Homo sapiens: one gene and its partner. The protein of the gene in region 2 purifies or fractionates together with the protein of the main gene of each other region. This does not show direct contact. Each region holds a gene or a part of one and is shown on either strand. Other genes may lie near its edges.

Region 1 (3,825 bases), on a different chromosome or scaffold from region 2:
TCTAAGATAAATTGATATTGATCTATTGTCAGTACTTAAGTAATGATATTTCCCTTGATCATACTCTGATCATGATCATTGATAAAGCAATTATGATGACATGAGCTGTATCTCCTCCATCATACAAGGAGCTCCCTGAAGGCAGGGACTAAGCCTGGTCAACAGGTCTTCCACTAGTCTATATGGTACCACTGTGCAAGTTATAAGACATGCTCTCTGTGTAGATTCCCCAGAAGCACTGTGGTAGATGGTCTCCAAAGATAGCCATCCTCCATTCCCTCCCTTCTTATGCAACTGCTCACATCAAGGTGTCATCTAATCCTCTTCCCTTGGAATCTGGGCTTTAGTGGCTTGACAACAGAAGCAGTCTAGGCAGCGGAAGAGACGCTGGACAGGTGAGGTCTAAGAAGCCTGCTGCTTTTCGCCTTGGTTCCCAAACACATGCGGAGGCCTTGTGTTTTCATCCCCAGCTGAGCTCCCAGCCAACAGCCAGCATCAACTGTCAAATCTGTGATGGGAGGAGCCATCTGGGCCATCAGATGAGTTTGGCTTTCAGAAGACTCCAGCCCAGCCATTGTTCGACTGCCACTGCATTGGGAGCCCAAGCAAGAACCAGCCAGCTGAGCCCAGTCAAGCTGACAGAATGGTGAAAGAGAAGAAGCTGCGTTCTGAGCCAAACTTCTGGACTGGTTGGCTATGCAGCCTGAGAACTGAAACAGACACCCAGCTTGGTAAGTAGTCATGATCTGGGTTTCTGCAATGAGCAGTCTGGTTAATCTCTTGCATGGCTCTGGCCATGAGGCTGTGTCATTGTTTCTGCTCAAAGAGCCCAGGTCAAGACTCAAGGAAACCTTCCCAGGCATGATCAGCTACCAAGGACTTAACAAATCCCTAAGAAAGTATCAAAAGAATAGCCTGCAACTGATCTGATTGTACCCCCAACAGGGCTGAGTGACCAGAGCTGGGTTTCTAGAAAGGTTCTGAGGAGCTAGGGCATGGATGTGGGTGTCCTACAGGTCCCAGAAGACTTACCAATGGTGGTAATGACGGTCGCTGCAAAAATCATTGCATTGGGCCAGTTCCAGTTGTTGAAGGTCTGGTTCCCTGTGATGGCCACACCCTGTCCTGCAGCATCAGATACCACCTAAAATGAGAAACAGTAAAGGTCAGAGCTGAGGCCACACTTAACAGATGCTGATTGACAGAACTGCACTAAACTCCTTGTAAGCATTTTCATTTAGTCATCACAAGAAGAAGGTGGCAGTGTCTCCATGTTACAGATGAAACATTGTATAGAGGATCAGAGAGGTTACCTGATTTACCCAAGGTAAAGATATGAACCCAGGCAATCTGGCTCCAAAGTTCATTCTTTCACTGAGTCAATGCTTCTCCAACTTACTAGCATGCACCAGGATCACCTGGAAATCTTGTTCAACAGACTGCTGGCCCCTACTACTCCGAGTTTCTGATTTAGGAGGTCTAGAAGGAACATTTCTAAACATGTTCCCAGGTGATGCTGTGGACAGGGACCACACTTTGAGAACCACTGCACTAGATTAATTCTGCCTCTCAAAAAAAGCACATGTGAGGCAGACACACACAAGGAGGTCCCCTGTGCCTCACCCAGCCCTCCATGGAGGGTGTTCTACCTGCAGAGACCAGGTCCTTGTTCAGGGTTGGCTGGGGAGGGGCCCCCCATATACCCTTCAGCCTACTGTAGGATACCTGCTCAGGTCAGCTCAGTGCCCTGTTGACTTGTCCTCGGAGGGCATGCAAATCAGCAGGTCCTCCTTTCCCCCAGCCTAGGACTCTAATGTACCCTCTCCCCTGTGGGATCTCACTTCCCTCCCTTCCCTGTAGCCCTTTCTCTCTCTGCCCTGGGCTGAGCAGCTGTCTGGGAAGGGACAGATCAGAGGGTGAGTACATTTCAGGGTGACTCATAACTGTGCTATCAATCCCCAAAGAGCTTCCAGTAACTGTGGATAGCAGGTGAGAGGCCACCTGGGGATGGGATGTCCCCCTGGAGAGTGCGAGGAGCGGTGGGGCAGAGGTGTGGGGAACTTATCTACTCCTACAATACTGACAGCTGCAAACCTGTTTCCATCTGACTAGGCCCCAATTCTGCTATCACCACTGGCTCCAACCTATCTGTGGGGCTTTATCAGCTGGCAGGGCCTGGACCCCAGAAGTCACATAAGAAGGGACTCTAAATCTGGGGCTCAAGTCCTGTCCCCAAGGAGCGCCTGCAGATGGGTAGGCCATCCAGACCAGAAGCTAGGCATTCAGCCAAATTGCCTATAAAAACCAAGACAAGGACTGAGAGAGAAGAGACAGAAGAGTGAGGGATGGAAACAGAGGGAGACAAAAAAAACCTTGTTTCTAACCTACCCAGAGCATGACTGAGGTTTGGTGGGAAAAAAAGGGCATGGGTGGGTTGTTCTGAAGGAAAGTGTAATTTGCAGAAGCAGCAGCCGGCCTGCGTAAATGGATCTGCACACTCTGCAAAGAATTTTCCATGATGGCACGCTTGTCTGTCAGACCATCAAACCACACAGCTCACTGCGCTGCCTCCTCCGGCATTTCACAGCATCTCCGAGGCTACGAAGGCTGTGCAGCATCAAAGTGGAAAGTGGGGACCATCGCATCAAACTCTGGCCAAGGCAGCCCCTGCCCTCAGAGAGCTCTCTGTCTAGCTGGCCAGACCATTTCAATGTGAAATGGCTAAAGGACATTTAGATACTAACAGGCCAACAGGAGAGCTAAAACAAATACTAAGGACCATCCAATGGGTTTCTGAAAACATCAAATCTGTTTGGAGCAAGAGAATGAGGAAGTACCAGGGCCACGTTAATGTTAAACAGATGGCAGAGAAAGCGGAACCACCCAGCTCTCCTTTGGCATCTACCTTTGCTACCTCAGATATCGATCTTGAATGGGACCGGCCTACAAGAAAAGAGTATATAAGAACATACAAGAACATCTTGAAATGATAATTGAATCACTGATCACAGGTGAGGCTGCAGCACCACCTCTGGTCATCCCCATGGAATCATGGGGAACAGGAAAGATGTCAGAAGACAAGCTGTTCCCATTTTTCACAAAAAGGAAAAGAGTGGATTCTAGAAATTCAGAAAACAAACCTGAACTCTTGCAAACTTCAAAATGGGGAGAGGAGAATGTTTGGAACATGCAGAAGAGGAAGTAGTGGGCACTAGAAACTAGCACAGATTCACCCAGAACAAGTCATGCTCAGCTAAGTGCATCTCCTTTTCAAAGGGTTGCAAAGCCTTGAAGTTCTGTGGAATGTAATCCATCTAGATATCAGCAAGGCAGCTAACAGATGGGATTAAAGAAATTCATGTGGACAAGACACAGAAATGTCAGTGGAGCCAGGATTAATTGGGTCCATTCAAAGGCAGACAAACAACCCTAGGAGGTATTGATCATTATCAACCCAGACTGAGTCTCCACCATCATGCTTAAGGCCTGGTTTTCTTCAATATTTTAAACCACAGCACAGTGAGGACAGAGATGGTTTACTAATCCAATGTGCAGTGGATGCAAAATTGGGGATAAGGATGGGATGGGAAGATAGCTAACACATAGCAATGGCAGTATCAAGATTCAAAATCATCTGGCTGGATATAGGGGCCAAAATCAACAACATACAAGTATCCACTTAAATGTTTAAGTCTTATACTTTGGATTGGAAAAGACTGGTAGAGGATTGAAGGGAAAAGTCCCTGGATATTAGCTGACCATGGATCAACAAACAGTAATCCTACTGTCCTGCTGTCACAAGAAAAGTAAATGCAATCTCAGGCT
Region 2 (3,246 bases):
CCCAGGCAGTTAATCCACCCATGATTGCTGCTTGAAGATGATTATTATTCTTGATTCTCAAAGCAACAATGTGTTATGAAAAATAAACAACAACTAACTTTTGGGATCAGACATATCTGGGCTGTAATCCTTACTTCATCAGTTACTAGCAGTATGACCTTGGTCTAACCTCAGTTCAGTTATCAGAAAAATAAAAATACTGTCATTTTATGAGGTTATTGAAAGAATTTAAATGAGATATCCATCTTGGGAACATTTTATGTATTCAACAAATATGGGTTTTCACCTTCCACTCCCACTTTCTCTATATAGCGTCATAACCTCACTGTTGGCTGAAATGCTATGTTAACAGGACAGTTCTACAGCTAAATCCTACCAAAAACAAAACAAAATCTATGAGAGAAAATTAGATAAATAAATTAGACAATTCTACTTAGGTATACTACTTAGAAATACTACTTCCTGACTTTGAGTTTAGAACTACTCAAAGAAATGATAGTAGAAATTTGAATAGTATTAGAACTACTCAAAGAAATTGTAGTAGAAATACTACTATAATTCTACTTAGAAATACTACTTCCTGACTGTGAGTTTAGAACCACTAACATATAAACAACTATTTCATTTTTATTCATTCTCACAAATGCTTTTCCACTGAAAGTCTTACATAATTTATCTGTAGCTAATCTTTCTTTTTTTTTTTTGAGACGGAGTTTCACTCTTGTCACTTAGGCTGGAGTGCAATGGCACGATCTCAGCTCACGGCAACCTCCACCTCCCAGGGTCAAGCGATTGTCCTGCCTCAGCCTCCCAAATAGCTCGGATTACAGATGCCTGCCACCACACCCAGCTAATTTTGTATTTTTAGTAGAGATGGGATTTCTCCATGTTGATCAGGCTGGTCTCGAACTCCTGACCTCAGGTGATCTGCCTGCCTTGGCCTCCCAAAGTGCTGGGATTACAGGCATGAGCCAATGTGCCCAGCTGTAGTTAATATTTCTAGATTTCTATTGAGTAAGGTGATTATTTTACAAGTAGGGCAGTTCCTTTGGGGACAAGCAAATAAAGCAAAGAAGGTTATTAGACTACCTTAATTGATTTGACTTAGGTAAGTTTACTAACATCTAACTCAAACTGGTGATCACAGGTCTTTCTCTCTTCCAGGTGGTTCAGCATGCCCTTGATAAAGCCAGGACGGGAAGGACATGCCTAGTGGTCACTCACAGGCTCTCTGCAATTCAGAACGCAGATTTGATAGTGGTTCTGCACAATGGAAAGATAAAGGAACAAGGAACTCATCAAGAGCTCCTGAGAAATCGAGACATATATTTTAAGTTAGTGAATGCACAGTCAGTGCAGTGATGCTGTTGAGGTAGCACATATTTTGATGTTCGTGTAATGCAAAGAAGGAGTACTTAATAATTACTTGGCAAGCTTTGATCTCTTTTATTGCATATATCAATACCTAGAATCATGCTACTCAAGTACATACATGTTCTATTCACACACCATCTGACCTTCAGATTTTTAAAAGGAAGCAAAAATTTGCTTATTTCATGTAAGTGAAATAATGCTTATATCCTTCACTTTATAAAACTATTCTAGCACATTTGCTTGTAAAGCAGTTTTCTACAAGGTGAATTTATTTCCCATCAACTTCTGCTATAAAATCGGAAATATGTTTCCAGGGGGAATATTATCCAATTAACCATGTTGAAGGTTTTAGCAAAGGCAGTGTAAGATAGAGTGGGGCCTGTAGCATTGCAGGGAGAGTGTCTTTCACTTGGAATTTTGTTTTGCAGCACATATTACAGTAGTTTTGCTAGTCCCTTTTCTCCAGACCGTAGGGATTTCTCTCAATAAGTATTCACTATTTCTCTAAATTTTATTCTATTTTTTTGTTGAGCAGGGAATAGAAAGGATTACGATGTAAAATTTCTGGGAGGATTAGGTAGCTATCTCCTACTTCACCAGTAAGTGAAGTGCCTCACATGAGCCATCCCAAAGATTCATTATTCCAAACCTTGGGTTTGGCAGTATAAGTCACAGGCCTACCTGTTTATGAAAACTTACTTACTTAAAATAAGAGCTACTTTTGGGCCGGGTGCGGTGGCTCACGCCTGTAATCCCAGAACTTTGGGAGGCCGAGGAGGGCGGATCACTTGAGGTCAGGAGTTCGAGACCAGCCTGGCCAACATGGTGAAACCCCGTCTCTACTAAAAACACAAAAATTAGCCAATCTTGGTGGCGGGCACCTGGAATCCCAGCTACTTGGGAGGCTGAGGCAGGAGAATCATTTGAACCTAGGAGGCAGAGGTTGCAGTGAGCCGAGATCTCACCACTGCACTCCAGCCTGCGCAACAGAGCGAGACTCCATCTCAAAAAATAATAAATAAGAGCTAATTTTATTGTGGGTGAAAATTTTTAAACGTCTTTCTCTATAATAAAATAATTTCCTTAAATTTTATATATACTTTATCATATATAATGTGTGAATGATTTTAAAGTTCTGTGTAAATAACAATATTGGTAAAATGAGTTACATTTTCAACTTACTTAAATATGTAATGTCACCTGGTGATTTTATCTTTATTCTTCAGTGTATTTTCTTCCATTTACACATTTAGCTAGCCTCCCTAAAGTGTACTCTACCAATAATTGAAATCTTGTTAAACAAAATTAAAACCATTTATATATTATGCTGCTTTCTTTAAAATGCAAAATAAAAATAAGATTGGGGACTTGAGAATCAGATGCATTGCTTAGACACATTGGTGCTGACTGCCATGTGGTTATTTTGCTATTCATGGATATAGAGCTCTTGGTAGCTTCTCTTCCCGGGGTAGGGTAGACAAGAAGAAAATAAAAATATAGTATGGACATGCTCAGAACCTCAGAGCAGGAGCACCACAGGCTCCAATTCTGTAATCCCTCCTAGAGGGGCAAATATGGTACCTGAAATGCCTGCTTACCCTTTGAACCTATCAACATCTGTCCCATACCTATAGATAGCAGTAAAACACATTCCTTTCTAATGTATAACCCTGCTAGTTTTTATTTCCATTTTATTTTTAATGAGTTTAAAGAACGCTTCACAGGCAGAATTCTCATCAATAAAGCCACTGCCTGCACTGGACCAAGCAATCATGCTGAGAATTGGGGTCCCAAAGAGTTTTTAAGGATTTGTAAGGTTATCAGCTGATGAAGGCAGAAAGTAGGTAGAGATCAACTACTTTTTAGGGGTTG

Evidence for each region.
Region 1: the proteins of ABCB5 (region 2) and KCNK5 fractionate together in Homo sapiens (co-fractionation; one large-scale study listed by BioGRID). This does not show direct contact.

What each region holds. Positions count from the first base shown.
Region 1 is NC_000006.12:39,194,844-39,198,668, forward strand, and holds part of KCNK5 (potassium channel subfamily K member 5), read right to left. Parts: intron 1,145-3,825; coding exon 1,033-1,144; intron 1-1,032. UniProt on the Homo sapiens protein: K(+) channel that conducts voltage-dependent outward rectifying currents upon membrane depolarization. Voltage sensing is coupled to K(+) electrochemical gradient in an 'ion flux gating' mode where outward but not inward ion flow opens the gate.
Region 2 is NC_000007.14:20,754,263-20,757,508, forward strand, and holds the end of ABCB5 (ATP-binding cassette sub-family B member 5), read left to right. Parts: intron 1-1,164; coding exon 1,165-1,362; 3' UTR 1,363-2,746; downstream 2,747-3,246. UniProt on the Homo sapiens protein: Energy-dependent efflux transporter responsible for decreased drug accumulation in multidrug-resistant cells. Specifically present in limbal stem cells, where it plays a key role in corneal development and repair.